Linked DNA regions of Homo sapiens: region 1 is linked to region 2. The links come from fine-mapping of genetic effects on gene expression. A gene starts in region 2. The other region holds a variant in brackets. All regions are shown on one strand. Distances are between the middles of the regions. Region 1 overlaps TLE1 (TLE family member 1, transcriptional corepressor). Region 2 holds the start of TLE1 (TLE family member 1, transcriptional corepressor).

Region 1 (8,330 bases), 33 kb after region 2:
GGCTGAGACCGGCGAATCACGAGGTCAGGAGTTGGAGACCATCCTGGCTAACACAGTGAAACCCCGTCTCTACTAAAAATACAAAAAAAAATTAGCCGGGTGTGGTAGCAGGCACCTGTAGTCCCAGCTACTCAGGAGGCTGAGGCAGGAGAATGGCATGAACCCAGGAGGCATAGCTTGCAGTGAGCCGAGATCGCGCCACTGCTCTCCAGCTTGGGCGACAGAACGAGACTCTGTCTCAAAAAATAATAATAATAAAATAAAAAAATAAAACCATACATGTACATGAATTTTATACTTACCAACGTATGATTTTGTTTTTTTTTTTTTGTGAACAGCCTTTGTCTAGCACTGTTTAGTAATGGTTTATCTGGTTGCACCTTGGCCATTGAATTTAGGGGTGCATGGAGATTAAGTTTTGGTTCATTGAGGCATGACTTTGAAAGTATATTAAATATGTACCCTGGCATCAGTTTTAGTAGGGGAGGTACGGCAAAGAAATGTGTCACAGTATTTAGTAGGAGTCGTGTTCTCGTAATGCTTCCCATCTTGTTGTGTTGAGAAGGCTTTTAGGTAGAAAGCTGTTAAGAAACTGTATGGAAGCTTTCTTTGTATGACATGGTGATTTTTAAGCACATAGGTTTAGTTTACCAAATGACAGTAAGTGCTGTGGAGGATCTTGAAGGGCCTAGAGAAGAGTGCGTTTATTGGCGTTATGGGGGAAAGGCAGCTTCTCAGTGAATTTGAGGCAGGCCTTGAGGGATTGGGAAGATCTCTCATATTTGTACAGCACTTTGGAATAGTATACCTTACATACCAGCTCATCAGCTCACTCGATTTTGATGAAACTCTCAAGTAGATTGGTGGTAATCCTGTTAAGTACGAGACCTGGTTGGGACCCAGTGGTTTAAGTGATTTAACATAGAACCCCTAGCAGTAGTTTGCCAAGATGCAAACCCTAATTTTTGGATGATGAGGGCTAACTGTATTACCATATGCAAATCAGTGAGGAGAGTTGGCATAGGTAAGGAGAATGAAAGACTGTTGTAGACAGGTAATTTGGACTCCTGCTTCCTCCTGCCTCAGTAGGTGGTGGCCATCCATGAAGAAAGTCTTGTTGCTGGAGCCTTCATCCTGCTGCTTACATTTCTGAGTGGAGGGTTTCATGCAGATTTGGTTTGTGGATAGCTCTTGAATGCAGATTTATTGTTGTTGCCTTACACAGTATTAAAAAATCTAGGCACAGGGAAAGTTTATAAGCATTATGACTTAGTGGGTACCAAATAGGTATTCATCATTGGGTAGGAAAATTATTTCTAGGTGGGAAATACAGTTAGCCCTCAGTTTTTCACTGGAGTTGTCTAGCCTTTGCAAGAGGTGGAAGGCAGCAGGGTCAAATACCCAGGTTAACCTGCCAGCACACTCCAATCAAGAATAGAAGCATGGGCAGGAGTCACTACGAGAGGCCAGGCGCGGTGGCTCACGCCTGTAATCCCACCACTTTGGGAGGCTGAGGTGGGCGGATCACGAGGATCAGGAGATCGAGACCATCCTGGCCAACATGGTGAAACCCCATCTCTACTAAAAATAGAAAAATTAGCCAGGTGTGGTGGCGCGTGCCTGTCATCCCAGCTACTCGCGAGGCTGAGGAAGGAGAATTGCTTTAACCAGGGAGTCGGAGGTTGCAGTGAGCTAAGATGGCTCCACTGTACTCCAGCCTGGTGACAGAGCAAGACTCCATCTAAAAAAAAAATAAATAAATAGATAAATAAATACATAAATAAAATAAAGTCACTACGAGACTTGTTAATTTGTGCTAAATTAAGAATCTTACCAGAATACCCTTTTGTTGAAGCAAGAGATAATACTAAGAATTATTGCCAGTTTGTATGCTGCTGCAATCCAGACTATTTGAAGGGAAGATGTTCATGAAGTCCTCTTGGAGAGCTAGTGATGTTTTAGGACTCACAGAGCATTGTTGGGTAAGCTGTGTACCCTCACCTGCCAGGAGGTAGGTTGTGCAGGTGAAGGAGCCAGGGTATTTCAGAGGACGTCAGCGCCTTTTCTGGGGTAAACCAGCTTGTTAATAGAACAGTCCAAGACTTGGATTTAGATTTTCTGGCTCAAAAGTCAAGCTGGCTTGTCAGTATAGTTTAAGATTAGGGTTTAGAGACCTGGCAGACGGAGGGGAAGTCTTGGGTAAGACTCTCCTCTATTGCTCCTATTTGCTTCTTCTCCAGACCATTTATGTAGAATTTCCAGGACATATGGTATGGCTTTCGATGTTTTTCATCAGTTTGAGCTTTGATTTCTAACTTTTCTCCTCCTGTTTCAGGCTTATCCAGTCTAACCCAACTTACATAGTACAGTCGGCCCTTTGTATCTGTGGGTTCTGCATCTGTGAATTCAGCTAACCATGGTTTGAAAATACTTTTTTTTAAAAAACATTGCATCGGCCAGGCACAGTGGCTCATGCTAGGATTATAAATCCTAGCACTTTGGGAGGCTGAGGCAGGTGGATCACTTGAGGTCAGGAGTTTAAAATCAGCCTGTTCTACATGGTGAAACCCCGTCTTTACTAAAAATACAAAAAATTAGCCGGGCATGGTGGCACGTGCCTGTAATCCCAGCTACTTGGGAGGCTGAGGCAGGAGAGTTCCTTAGAACCCGGGAGGTGGAGGTTGCAGTGAGCCAAGACTGTGCCACTGCACTCCAGCCTAGGTGACAGAGCGAGACTCTGTCTTAAAAAAAAAAAAAAAAAAAAAAATTATGTCTGTAGTGAACATGTACAGACTTTTTTCTTGTCATTATTTCCTAAATAATACAACAACCATTTACCTAGGATTTACATTGTATTAGGTATTTTAAGTAATCTGGAGATGATTTAAAGTGTATGGGTAGATGTGCATAGGTTATATGCAAATACACCATTTTATATAAAGGACTTGAGCATCCTTAGATTTTGGTTTCCATGGGGGATTCTGAACCAATCCCTCACAGATACCGAGAGACCACTGTATTCATTGCCTTTGCTTTCATATGTCTTTCTTTTCTTTATTTTATTTTTGATAACTTTAATATTATTAAAGGTTTACAAGTTCATTTCATTCAGACTGGATCTTAACTGTCCTCCGACCATGTTCAAGTCTACTTTGATGCCATTCTAGGTAGTAACACATAGTTGCTATCATAGTTAAAGATGAGGGCATCTTTTCTTAAACCAAAATAAATTCCAGTTAAATAGTTAAGCATAAAAAGTGCAGCCATAGCACACTAGAAGAAAAGTAAGAATGGCTTTTATGATATTGATGTGTTCTAATCTTTACCTAAAGGCCAGGAGCATAGGAAGAAAATGCTTTCATTTGACCACATAAAGACTTAAAGTTCTATACAGCAAAAAAATCATATTAAGCAAGGTTGAAAGACAAGTGGCAAGCTGAGCAAACTCTGATAAAGGGTTAATATTTGTCCCATTCAAGGAAGCACCACCAAAGGACAAAAATGATTAAGCAACAATGGAAGAATGGAGAAAGGAAACATAGAGTGGAGCAATAAATACATGAAAAGATGTTTAACTAGAGGAAGAATTCAAGTAATGCAAATAAAAATGAGGTCATTTTTTAATCCATTAGATGGATGAAGATTAAAGGAAGGTCAACAAAACTCAATATTGACACTGGGTGGGAGAGCAGGAACCCTCCTAAACTCGCAATAATTGGTACAGCTTTTCTGCTGGGCAGTTTGGCAGCATGCATTGCAACTTAAAATATGCATACACTTTGACCCAGCAGTTTCACATCTAGGGATTCCTTTTAGAGATCTGTGTGGAGGCGTATTTGACAGAGTTGTTAATTGTGCAAAATTAAATGAAACATAAATATTCACTGGTGTCAATAGTACTTAGACATCTATATGCTTGTATGGTGGAATGTTTCAAGGTACTTGTTAATCTGTATTGACTGGGATGGTGTCCCTGACACATGTTTGATTAACAAATTATAGAAAGGCAGGGTATGTAACGGAAACCCCTTGGTATTAAAATGTGTCTCTCACTCTGGGCTTCTGTGCACATAAGTGAGAACCTGGAATGATGGTATCCTAAAATCACCAATATGTTACCCATGCTTATCCTTGGATGATGGGCTCAGGGTTATTTTAACTTTCTTTTATATTTCTGTATATGTATCTGTGTGCATGTGTATGAGTTCAAAGTGAGCATATATCATTTTTAAAACTGGAAACCTTCAATGTGAATTTCCGAGAAGAGGAATGTACAGAGTGTTGCAGGAATGTGTGGTAGGTAGGGAGTTGGGAGCAAGGACCTAAGTAGGATACCTACCAAAGGCATCTCTACTCCTTTACATGCACTCAAATAGACAGTGCAGAACCCTGTTGCAAAGGAAAGCCTTGCCCA[T/CAT]GCTTTCGAGGAGAGCCATGACCTTGAGGTAGCTTGAGTGGGTGGCTGTGATCAAATGAACTGGGTGGGGCTGACCCAGTTCTGTTTTTGTACCTGGTACAGCTGCACCCTTTTTGCATATATCTGCCTCGCTGGCTAAAGCAAGGTCATGCACGGGCTTCCTCTCTCTACCAGTCATTTCCCCTTCTAGTACATTTTGTCCAAGGCATGGTCTGTCTGTAACCTTGTCTCATTGGTGGTCAGGGAGAATTGGGTTGGGTCAGACTAAATCCAATCTTATAAAACCAAAGACTTTGCTTAGTTAATTCAGATCATCTTAGAAGATACAAGGCTGCTGTTTTTTATATGCTTGATTGTAAAGTTCCTGGGGTTTTGTTCTTTTCTTTTCTTTTTTTTTTTTTTTTTGAGACAGGGTCTTGCTCTGTCGCCTTGGCTGGAGTATAGTGGCGCGATCTCAGCTCACCGCAGGCTCGACTTTGTTCCTGGGATTTCTACTTTGTCTTTTTCCATTCTCTATTTCTCAAGGTCATGGACTGCGTGCTTTTAAGTTTTTTTCTTGTGATCCTTTTCATTGCTTAATTCAGTAATATAGGTGGCATTTAGTAAGCATTGACAAAATGATGAAATAAGTAAGGTCAAGGATGGGCCTCTTTACAGATGACTTTTTTTTTCTTTTTTAAAAAAGCAGAACTGGTTCTTCCTAGGTAGAGGAAAGCAGAGCTGCTTTGCATTGCTGTAGGGTGTTGGAGGTGCTGCAGGTGGACCCTTCCCTGGGCTAGAAGTAGAGTACCCTCTGTTCCCTCTCTTGCCAGTTTTTGTCCCTTGTAGCAGAGGGACTGCTGTGGATGTGGAGCGGAGCAAAGGTTTTTCCAGCCTTCTTTATTTTTTTTATTTTTTGAGGTGGAGTCTCACTGTCGCACAGGCTGGAGTGCAGTGGCGTGATCTCGGCTCACTGCAGCCTGCACCTCCCTCGTTCAAGCAGTTCTCTGCCGCAGCCTCCCGAGTAGCTGGTATTACAGGCGCCCACCATCACGCCCGGCTAATTTTTGTATTTTGAGTAGAGACGGGGTTTCACCATCTTGGCTAGGCTGGTCTTGAACTCCTGACCTCATAATCCACATGCCTTGGCCTCAGAAAGTGCTGGGATTACAGGCGCGAGCCACCGCACCCGGCCTTTCCTGCCTTCTTTAAAACAGCCCGTGCTATAGACACTAAGGACACCTTTTATTATGTTCAGCTGACCCCTGGGCCCTGTCGGTGAGGTCTTTGAGTTTGTTACTGAACTGTGGCGAAACTTTCCGAATACTCAGGATATCATGACTTGACCATCACCCTCTAGACTGGAATGTTTTTAGTCATGTTTTCTTGGTTTGTTTGAAAGTTTGAGACTTAGGGAAGCTATGAACAATAAAATCCTTTTTCAGTTGTACAAGAGCTGGGACAAGTGGCAAAGAGGTCAGCAGGCCTTTCTTCTACTCTATCACCTTAGGCCTCATCTTTGAAAGGTGGACTGCTTTGACAGTGCTGCAGCTGCAGTGGCTTCTGACACCCGCTTGAATGAACTTGCAATAATGACATAAATGTGTCATGGTGTGCCATCATTGAAAAAGTACACTTGGCTGGGTGCAGTGGCTCACGCCTGTAATCCCAGCACTTTGGGAGGCCGAGGCGGGCGGATCACGAGGTCAGGAGATCGAGACCATCCTGGCTAACACGGTGAAACCCCACCTCTACTAAAAATAGAAAAAAATTAGCCGGGAGTGGTGGCGGGCGCCTGTAGTCCCAGCTACTTGGGAGGCTGAGGCAGGAGAAGGGTGTGAACCCGGGAGGCAGAGCTTGTGGTGAGCCGAGATCGTGCCACTGCACTCCAGCCTGGGCGACAGAGCAAGACTCTGTCTCAAAAATACATATATATATGTGTATATATATATAGTCACCATATTAAATGATCATATAGCCTTAAACCGCCTAGATTTTCCAACTCAATCAAACTACTCATCTCTTATTACAATGAAGTGTGCAGTTGTGGCTTACTTTGCAAGTGGGATTAATATCTACTGTTTATTTCAAGATAAGTATTAGTAACATAACCTGGGGAAACCATTTTATACACATTTCCAGAGCAAGGGAGAGGAGGACTGAAGTGTTAGGGGTATGAAGTTTTACCTTTCTGAACTGATTGTGAAGTATTCTAAACATTTGTGTGGCTTTGTCTTTATAGACTGAAATCGCCAAGAGATTGAATACGATTTGTGCACAAGTCATCCCATTTCTGTCTCAGGAAGTAAGTAAAATTGTTCAGCTGTTAAAGTGCAATTATGTTGCTTCTCTGTTTGCAAATTAGCTAGTTTTAAGATGTTAATTTTATCACAAGGAACAAGTGTGAAGAACATCTGTTACAGCTGAAGTGTGTAAACCCCCTGCTAGTCTATCCAACACATCTGAGGGCACACTGTAGAAATGGTGACAATAGCTCAACCCCCAAATTAATTTTTTTTCCTGTGGAAAACTGCAAAATGACTATCCAATGTACAGCTTTTGCTTTAAGTAGCATAAGCTTGAGAGCTACTGAAAATTCAGGTGTCTTTTATATCTTTTAAATAGAAAGCTGTTCTCATACTGACTTTTAAAAATGGTTCCATCAAGGTAGACTTTACTATGGAGGCAGATAGTTCTTTTGTACTTATGTATCAAGGCAGTTGTCTTAATGCTGTCCTTGAAGGGGTGGATGATAATAGTCCAAAATACATTAACTTAATGAGTCATATGTATGTATAAGCTATTTTGTTTAGTTACAAAGTCATAGAGGTTTAATCTTAACATTCTTTGAGGGAGGAATCTCTTTATATGAGTAATCTATGAAACTGACTCAAGACTATTGTATTTTAGCTTTGCCTTGAAAAGTTTACCTTCCTTCTGGATATAAGCTAGTAAATGCTGTAACGTGTTCTAAGTGTGCACGGGATGAATGCATCTTCACGCAGGGTGGAAAGTTTATTGGACTAGGAGTTGGAATACTGGGTATCCTGGTTGGCACCTGTTGCTCCATGCCGGATGGTCACCATCTCATTATTGTTGTAACAGCCTCTTCCACCATAACCTTTGTCTGTCTGATATGACAATAGATTTGTCTGCCTTTTGAGTATATCAGTAGTTGTTAGACTTTAGTGATCCACGGCTCTATGTTACATTCTCATGCCTCCCAAAGTAAATTTATGGCTTTGTTTTTATTTGTGGGTGGAGTTGGGAGTTGGGAGGTGTGGGGTGAGTTTCCATCTCTGAATTGAGGCTGGAGTCCTTCCTTTGCCTTGTGGAGGGTAAAGAATCAAAAGGCTATAAAAGAATGAGAGGAATTCCAGGAGTTTCCGAAAATGACTGGTGGGTCAAGATTGGTTGATCAGACAAGTGATCAACCAATCAACGGATTTAATATTAAAGTTTTAGGTATTAAAATGGGTATTTTATTTATTTATTTTAAAAATAGAGACAGGGTTCTGCCATGTTGCCCATGCTGGTCTTGAACTCCTGGGCTCACCCTGTCTTGGCCTCCCAAAGTGCTGGGATTACAGGCATGAGCCATTGCATCTGGCTGTAAAATGCATATTTTAAAATTGCTGTAAACTTATGAACCCCTTTTGTGAACAAGGGTGATCTTCCAAATTCTGTTCTATTTATTTTTTAAGGTCCTATGTTATCATTCTTTATGTCCTTTTTTGTTTTCTACCATTCCAAGCCGAAATTTACAGCCAGAAGTAGTGACTGGTGTTGTTTAGAAATAAAGGGCAGCGCCATTCTCAGTTTTTCTTTCCCTATCTATGTTCTGTGAAAATAAAGTGTGGTTGAGAAATTCTGCATTTAAACCCTTCTACTTCAGCCTGCATTGCACACAGCATTTGACTTTTTGTTGTTAGAATAT
Region 2 (8,330 bases):
ATTAAAAAAAAAAAAAGGTGGGGCGGGGTGGCTCACGCTTGTAATCCCGGCACTTTGGGAGGCCAAGGCGGTCGGATCACCTGATGTTAGAAGTTCGAGACCAGCCTGGCCAACATGGTGAAACCCTGTCTCCGCTAAAAATACAAAAATTAGCCGGGCGTGGTGGTACACGCCTGTTATCCCAGCTGCTCAGGAGACTGAGGCACATGAATCGCTTGAACCTCGGAGGCGGAGGTTGCAACGAGCTGAGATCGCACCACTGCACTCCAGCTTGGGTGACAGAGCGAGATGCTGACTCAAAAAAAAAAAAAAAGTCAAATGAGGAAATGTATGAGCAATAATTCTCAGCTAAAAGGAAGAGAACACAACAAAAGTGGTCTGTTAAAAACTATAATTATTGGCCAGGTGTGGTGGTGCATGCCTGTAATCCCAGCACTTTGGGAGGCTGAGGAGGGCGGATCACGAGGTCAGGAGTTTGAGACCAGCCTGGCCAACAAGGCGAAACCCCGTCTATACTAAAAATATAAAAATTAGCCGGGTGTGGTGGCACACGCCTGTAGTCCCAGCTACTGGGGAGGCTGAGGCAGGAGAATCTCGAACCCAAGAGGCAGAGGTTGCAGTGAGCTGAGATGGCACCACTGCACTTCAGCCTGGGAGACAGAGTGAGACTCCGTCTCCAAAAAAAATTAAAAAATTACAATTATTATTTCAAATAAAAAAGTAATAGATTTAAAAGATGTCTAGTTGCTACGATCAGCATCTATAACTTTTCCTATTTTGTTTAGTATCTGTACTAGATAACATCTAGCTTTTGTAATTACTTAGGCTATTGCTGAGTTGAAAATTTGATAATCAGCAACAAATGAATGGGAATATACCCACATATGCATCAAAAGAAAATGAACAAGCTGACAATCTTTCTGTTTCTCTGCAGAGCATAAAAAGGGTACTGTGTTTTTCAGAGAAAATTTCCAGTGGGAGCATCATACATTTCACATAAAAACATCATTGACATATGAATGTTAAAGGTAAAGAAGATTATGGTTAACAGGCTTTAAATGGAAGACCAAAATTATAGATTTCATGAGGAGGACTATTTTCTTTTAAACAGGCTGTAGGCAATCTGCACATATATTATTTATTTAAAACATAAGATTAAAGCTACTTGACTGTTTAAACGCCGTCATTTGTAATGCAGTTTGATGAGAGTTTTGTAGTATAATTATTACAGCATGACAATCGTGGAGAAAATATGACCTTGAAAAGGGCAGAGCCTTCTCCCACTCTGACAGACGATGCTCTAAATGGGAAAAAAAGGCTTCAAAAACCAAAACCAACCATTTTTATGCACACAATTAAAGGCCTTCCAATTTTAAATTCATAATGCTCTGTAGATACTACAGATACTTCATTATAAGGAAATCAGAAGGCCTGGTGTTTCAAACTCTATTGGCAAGGAAAGACTAGTTAAAAGAGAATTTCTAGTGTTTACTCATGGCAAACTGGGAAATATGGTGAGCAGACACATTGTCTGTGAGTAGTTATGTTAGAGAACATTTAAAGATGCCTTAGTACTGATTTTGAGGGCAGCGGGGTGGGGAAAGAAGAGAAGTAGCAACACTTTTGCCCCATCTCAAAGCATATTTTAATGGCTCTGTTTAAACTTAATGGGAGTGTGCCAGTTATTCAAGATACAGGCACCACATAAAGCCTGGGTAAGCCGGGGAGGAATATCAGTTGCTCCAGTTGTCACAGCATGTATACAAGCATACTTGTGGCATCCAAGCACTTTCTGTCCGGTCCTGGAGCTGATTATGGGATGAACTGGCCGCAGACTGGTATATGTGGCTCAATCACTAGATAATTTCAAGGAAAACAGGTTGCTAAAGGCCCTGGGATCCTATGATTCCAAAAAGTCCTGTATGTCGAGCAAAACTGTCATCGTCACCAAATTTAACCAAGGAAAGTGAGGCAGTGCTTTCTTCTTTTTTGTTCTCCATGTTAGCAAAATGAATAATACAGCCGCCTTCCCAACTGTACTTAATGAGAACACCACAAAGCTACAATGCCCAACTTGTTTAAGAATTTACTATGGCTTCGTACAGACTGGTTAAAATCGCTTTTTTATTTTTTCATTTATAATTGATATTTGGGAGTGATGCAATTATAGACAAATCAATATCATACATATTTAAAAACAACTCCAACAGTGAAATGTATTATCTAAAATGACTTCTAAAACTATTTCAAGAAAAAGAACTCTGTAAAAGCACATCTTTAAATAAAATGTATGTCTGTTTAAATAAGCTCCTTCCCGTAAGTCTCTTGAAGGTAAAATAATAAAATAATAACGTGGGGGTTATTAATACCAAAAACTTAACTAGTTTCCAACATAAGATAAATACTTGTCCAAGATGTGCCCTTATGGAAGAAGTTACCACCGTTTGGCTAAACCAGCATTATTCATTCACTGCTCATGTGGAAATGTTCCTCAAACAAAAGCATAAATGCGGCAATACTGACGGTTTTCTGCTGTGTATTTAGAGACATACACAAAAACCAAAGACTCTCAGCATTAATTATACAGCATGTCTTGATTATTACAATCTCAAAATCCCTTTTAACTCAAGTTCCACTTCATAAGAACCTTAGCCACGTCATTTACCTAACTCTTCCCATTTAGCTCTTCACACAGCTCAGCTCAGGAGTACCACCCAGACTGTGGGGGTGGGGTGTGCGGGACAGGTTTTTCAGGTCTCAGTGCTGGTTTATTACATTGTCTCTCTTTGTTCCCAGGAATTGGAAACAGACTCGTAGTCTTGTAGCTGAGAAGTTCCTAAAAACCTCAGCCGCTCCCCACCTCTCCCAACACAGCGAAGTCAGGACTTTTAAGACGAAGACCTGGGATTTCGCGCCCCGGGCAAAACGTCTCATCTGCGGACACGCGTGCCTTGTTCTGGCAGCACCCTGGGAATCCTTCCCGCCAAACGGGACAGGACGATCTTTTTGAAAAGTGGCTTGAAATCCTGCAATAAAAATCAAATCCTACCACTTTGGGTGCAAAGGGGGTGGGTGGGGTGGGAGGACATCACAGTCGTCTTTGCTGGTGTACCTACGCCAACCGTGGCGTTGCTCATTTACGCATTTCCAACTAAGTGCACAGTCCACTCCCTCTCGTACATCCGTAAAAAGGCAGCTCAAGGAAAAACAAACCTCAGATAAATTTTTGAATGTGGCCTCACTTTTAGAGTAGCATCAAACAAGGGGTCCAGCACTGAAAAACACATTTGCTCGAATTACCAAAAGCCCCCCTCCGCCTCCAATAAGAAACTCCGCAGCTAGTCTTTGAGTTACTTTCACTTAGATCTGAGGATTTTCATTAAAGGGAAAAGTGAGCAAGTGGCAGGATTTTTGCTAACTCGAGCCCTCAGCTTCCCCGGCTGCACGCTCGCCAGTCCCTCCCGCTAGCGCGCGCCCGCGCGCTCTCTAGCCAGCCCCACGTTACTTTGATTGACAGCCCAGCCCCGCCGCTCTCCTTCCCACCGACCTTCCCATCATCAGTGCCAATCTCCGCGAATCGCCGCTTCCCATTGGCTGGTTTTGGCGTCCCGCGGCTCCTCCAGGAACAGTTCCTCACCAAGCCCGGGAGGACGCGGCTGGCGGAGGAGGGGCCGGGATGGGAAGGGAGACCGAGGAGACGGCGGAGATGGAAGCGAGAGGAGGGGGGGAGGGAGAACGCCCCGTCCGGCGCTGCGCTGCCATACGCTCCGGGGAGGAGCGCGTCAGCGCCCCACGTTGGTTGCAGCGCACGCGATTGGCTGATGCGGGCCTTCTGCCCCCCCCCCACCCCCCAACCTCCCGGGCTCACGTCCCCCGCCGGCTCCGCGCTCGCGCCCCCCGCCCGAACGGGGCTGGGCGGGGCCGGCGCTGGTTAGCTCCGGAGTGTGAAACCGCGTGTTAATGTAAGCGGCGCGAGAGGCGCGGGCGGCGGCGGCGGTGGGAGCGGCGGCTGCAGAAGCAGCAGCAGCAGAAACAGCGGCGGGTACTCTGTGCCCCGCGTCCCGGAGGCAGCCGACTGCGCCACCCCACCCTCGCACGGCCGGGCGGGACCCGCGCCACCAGCCCGGACCTCCGTCGTCCCGCGGCGACCAAAACCCCCGCTGGCCCCACCGCTGTGACTACTCTGGACTCGCCCGCAGAGTTTGCCCGCCGGGGAGGGTGGCCGATTGGCGGAGCGCACTCCTGCTGTTTTCCCCACCATCTCGTGGATGTCGTCCCTCGGGTGGTGAGAGAACTTTGCAGTGGGCTGGAGCGCCCTTTGCGGAGAAGCACACGAAGGTGAAGGAAGGAAAGAAAGAAGACCGAGGAAGAAGGAGCTCGGAAGAAGGGTCCGGAGCGGCCGGTCCGGCCGTGCAGGGCGAGTGCGCCCGAGGCGCGGCGCCCTGATGCTCCCCGGGCTCGAGGAGCATTGGGCACTTGCGGGACTGCTCTCGGTGGAGTAGCCCCGTCGGGCCCGGAGGGTTTGTGCAACCGCGGAGAACACCGAGTGCTGGTCGCACGGGGCGTGCCGAGCCGCCTCCCGGCGCGCCCTCCGCACTTTCCCCGCCTCGTCATCCGTCGCTCCCCGGCCAGGAGCCTCCGCTGCGTCTTCAACCTCGCTCCCCTTTGCGTCCCGGGAGCCTGCGAGCACCCGGCCGAAGGCGCAGCCGAATCTTGCGGGAGTCGCCCCGAAAGCGTCGGGTTTGTGTGGGGTTAGCGGGGGCCGCCGCGCCACCTGCACCTCGCCCGCCGCCGCCTCGGGGAAAGCCCGAAGAGGAGGCGGACCAGGAGAAGAGCAAAGAAAAGCAGTCCGTCTGGATTTGTTTGCCCAGGACTGGCGCCGCGCACGCGGATCGCCGAGGGGAGTGCGGTCGGAGTCACCGCGCCCCCGCCTCCCCGCCCGGGCAGCTGAGGCCGGGGGTTGGAGCGCTGCCCCCGCGCACAGTCCCCGAGCGCCCGACGTCTCCGCGCAGGTTCTTGAAGCAGCTGGGCCTGGGGCGCCCACTAATGTGGCCCTGAGGGCCGGAGCCCGCACCGACGGGAGCGGGAGCCGGAGCAGCTGCGGGCGCCGAGTGGCCGGTGCGCCCGGCGGAGCGCGCGTGCGTGGCCAGCGCGCTCCCCGCTTCTGCTTGGCTTTCCGGCTTAATTTTCCTCGGCGGGATTAAAGTTGGAAATTGACCGGAGAATTGAGTTGCCGGGGAACAGAGCCCCGGCCGCCGCCAGAGCGATGTTCCCGCAGAGCCGGCACCCGGTGAGGCGCGGCTGGGTGGTGGTGGGGGGCCAGGATCGTTGGGGAGGCGCTTCTCCCGGGCGGTAGGGAGACTGGTGGCTTCTGAGGCCCGGCGGACCTTCTCGCCCTCAGCGGTGTAAGGCTGGGGAGGTCTGGGGCCCTCTCTTCCTGGGGTGGGGAGTGGGCCGAAACTCTTAATTTTCTCCCTCCCTTTGGGCTCCTTCCTACTTGACGTCTATACCGAGCGGACAGGGGCGCTGGGGAAGGCTGGGGTTTCTCTCCTGCAGCCATATCCCCTCTACCTTCCCCGAGTGGGGGCAGGGCGCCCCCCCCTTTGTTTCTCCTCTCGCCTATTTACATGTCAATGCGGCCCCGGTTCCGGTGCGTCTGGAGGTGGCCCCGGCGACTCTGGGAATGGGGAGCGTAAAGGAGTTGTTTTTCTCCTCTGGTCCCCGGGGTCATTATCGCCGCCGTGGGGGAAGGGGCGGCGACACCGACAATCTGGCCTGGTCTTCCCTGGCCGCCGGGGAGCCCCCTTCCCTTTGGCCTGGTGACCCGGGCGCACTTAGCGCAATCCGCCCTGGAGACTGGGAAGAGCTTCCGAGCCTCTTTAGAAGCCGGGGCCCGGGGAGGGTCCGCTTTCCCCCTCCCCATAGTGAAGGGCAAACTCGAGTTTGGGGCCTCGTTTTCAGCCACTTCTAACTTTATGTTTATGTCCCACCCGTTCTTGCCTTCTCTGACTTACTGCTTTATTCATCCGCCCGCATTCCCGTCCCTCGGTCCCCCTCGCTGGTCGCCCCCAGACGCCGCACCAGGCTGCAGGCCAGCCCTTCAAGTTCACTATCCCGGAGTCCCTGGACCGGATTAAAGAGGAATTCCAGTTCCTGCAGGCGCAGTATCACAGGTGCGTGTCCGGCCGCGCCATGCGAGTGGTCGCGGGCGTCCCGGTGCCCCTTGCACCCAGCCGGGTGGCGGCGGCGCCTGTACTTAGTTCTTGCGTCCAGGCGGTGGCGTGTGGAGTCTCAGTTAAGACCTGTCATTCAAGTTACCCCCTTTCCTGGTTCTTCCCGGGCCGCCTCTTCTCTTGTCTCCTCCTCCTCCCATTGTTTCCCTTTTGCCGGTTTGCACTGTTCCAGGGAGTCCTTTTTCATGTCTTTAGGAGTTGCATGAGAATCGTCAATATTTGCACTTCATGTATTTATTTTTCAGCAGACTGAGCTGAAACATTGGTTCAATCGATGTCTCAGTCCTGGAGTGTGGGTTCAGGGAAGCAAAGCCATGTTGAAATCGCTGTTTGCCATACTAGAAAATTGGGTTTTCTGAGGCAAAGTCCATTAAGGAAGGCTAGATGCTTATAACATTGCCCATCATTGGTGATGGTGAGGGAGGTGGGTATAATAGTATAAAGAAGAAAGCTCACCTGCTTTGGCGTCATTTCGGATTGGTTTGGGTAGGATGAGAGAGTGGAGTCACATTTATATCCATCTCAGCCTTAGTTTCTTCAAGTAATGAGACTTACCTTCAAAGGACTTATAAATTTTTGTAAAATACTTTGCCAATAGTGAACTTCCCAGAAAGGTTAGTTTCTTTCCCTTGTTCCTATGAAGTTTTACCTGATTCTAACTCAGAAATAACTGTATTGACATTTTTTGCTTTTGTCATGCTTGAGAAAAAGCACACAGATGAGGCGAAGTGGCTTGGGTGTGAATTTTCTTACTTTGTCAGGGGCTTTCTCATTATTGACCTTTTGTCTACTTGTAGATAATATCTCTGCAGCTTGAGGCATACTTGCACACACCGTGTTTACCCAGCAGGGAGAACTTCAACCCACTTTATTGCAGTAGCTACTTGACATATTTTGGCAGGGATTTAAAAACCAAAGGTTTTGAAAGGGACCAGCAATTGTAGGAGTAACTTAACAGATAGGATTTTCAAACCTAGAGACCGTTTGAGTTGGCAAAGATGGCACAGCCTATGCCTAAGAGTGAAGATTGTGCAAGGGCCGGATTTTGGTGGAGTACAGAGAAACAAACTGATGCAGGAAGGTAGGGAGCAGATGACCATGAGGAGGAATCAGTTAGAGGTTCTGACAGATTTTTTTCATTCTTGTCATCTAACCAGATAGGCACCAAGAAGAATGGTAGCTGAATGGACACCTTGTATTGTTCACATTATTCCTTTTCCCTATTAAATGCAAGGACAAAGCTTTTGGGTGTTTACCTAGATAGTTTATGGCTTTTCCAAATTGGTCTGTGTTTTTACTTGAAGTGCAAATATGTGAGGCAGATGTTAAAACAAGTGACATAATGTTTACATTAAGTTGCCTGTTTTGTTTTCCTAGCCTTAAATTGGAATGTGAGAAACTGGCAAGTGAAAAGACAGAAATGCAGAGGCACTATGTGATGGTAGGTATCAAAGATTGGACTTTTTCCTTTTTCATATGATATTAGCAAACGTGTTAGCAGAGTGTAAAAAACATGAGTTAATGAAATGCTTGATTCTTTTTTCTCTTTACAGTATTATGAAATGTCATATGGATTAAACATTGAAATGCACAAACAGGTAAGCTTTAGTTGAACTTCAAGCTGAAATGAGACATCAGTTCATATGATTTAATAATACTGGCTTTGTTCTCAGTAGTGGGCTCTAGGGGTGGGGGTTTGTATGCTATTTTTCTGCCTTGGTTTCCTGTCCTGTGGATTGATGGTAGTATTCTGCATCAAGGGTTGCTTCTTGATAATTACAAGTGTTTAAATGACTAGGAGAGGGAGAGGTGTTTTGGAAATATAAACTAGCCTCTTTATTGACAGATAGGAATTAAGACTTGAGTTTACTTTTTCACCTGTATAGATTTATCCTCTTGAAAGGGCTGGGTATCTTCTACAGTTGCTGAAGTTTAGAATAGTTAATGTTTTTGTGCTGTTTTGCAAGGAAGTGTGGACCTGTTGGGGGGAAAGAAGGGTATTCAGGAGTTTTTTTTAATCGTGGTAATCAAGGTATATGACTATCTGTGGAGTATTCTTTATGCTTTGGGGCTGCATGAAGCAATAGTCAGGATTAG

What was found.
Region 1: its variant is fine-mapped to the expression of TLE1 in whole blood (INTERVAL, PIP 0.90).

The regions. Positions count from the first base shown.
Region 1 is chr9:81,652,342-81,660,671 of GRCh38, reverse strand. TLE1 (TLE family member 1, transcriptional corepressor) reads left to right here. Exons shown (of 20, transcript NM_005077.5): 5 at 6,636-6,698. Among named protein-coding and RNA genes, the nearest start is that of TLE1, 33 kb to the left of the region's middle. The variant T/CAT (reference allele first, on the strand shown) is at 4,415.
Region 2 is chr9:81,685,177-81,693,506 of GRCh38, reverse strand. It overlaps TLE1 (TLE family member 1, transcriptional corepressor), which reads left to right and starts at 3,960. Exons shown (of 20, transcript NM_005077.5): 1 at 3,960-5,290; 2 at 6,073-6,173; 3 at 7,611-7,674; 4 at 7,787-7,831. The coding sequence starts at 5,267. It overlaps TLE1-DT (TLE1 divergent transcript), which reads right to left and starts at 3,794. Exons shown (of 4, transcript NR_109772.1): 1 at 3,548-3,794. RefSeq lists silencers at 3,413-3,562, 3,713-4,062 and enhancers at 3,935-4,649, 8,305-8,330.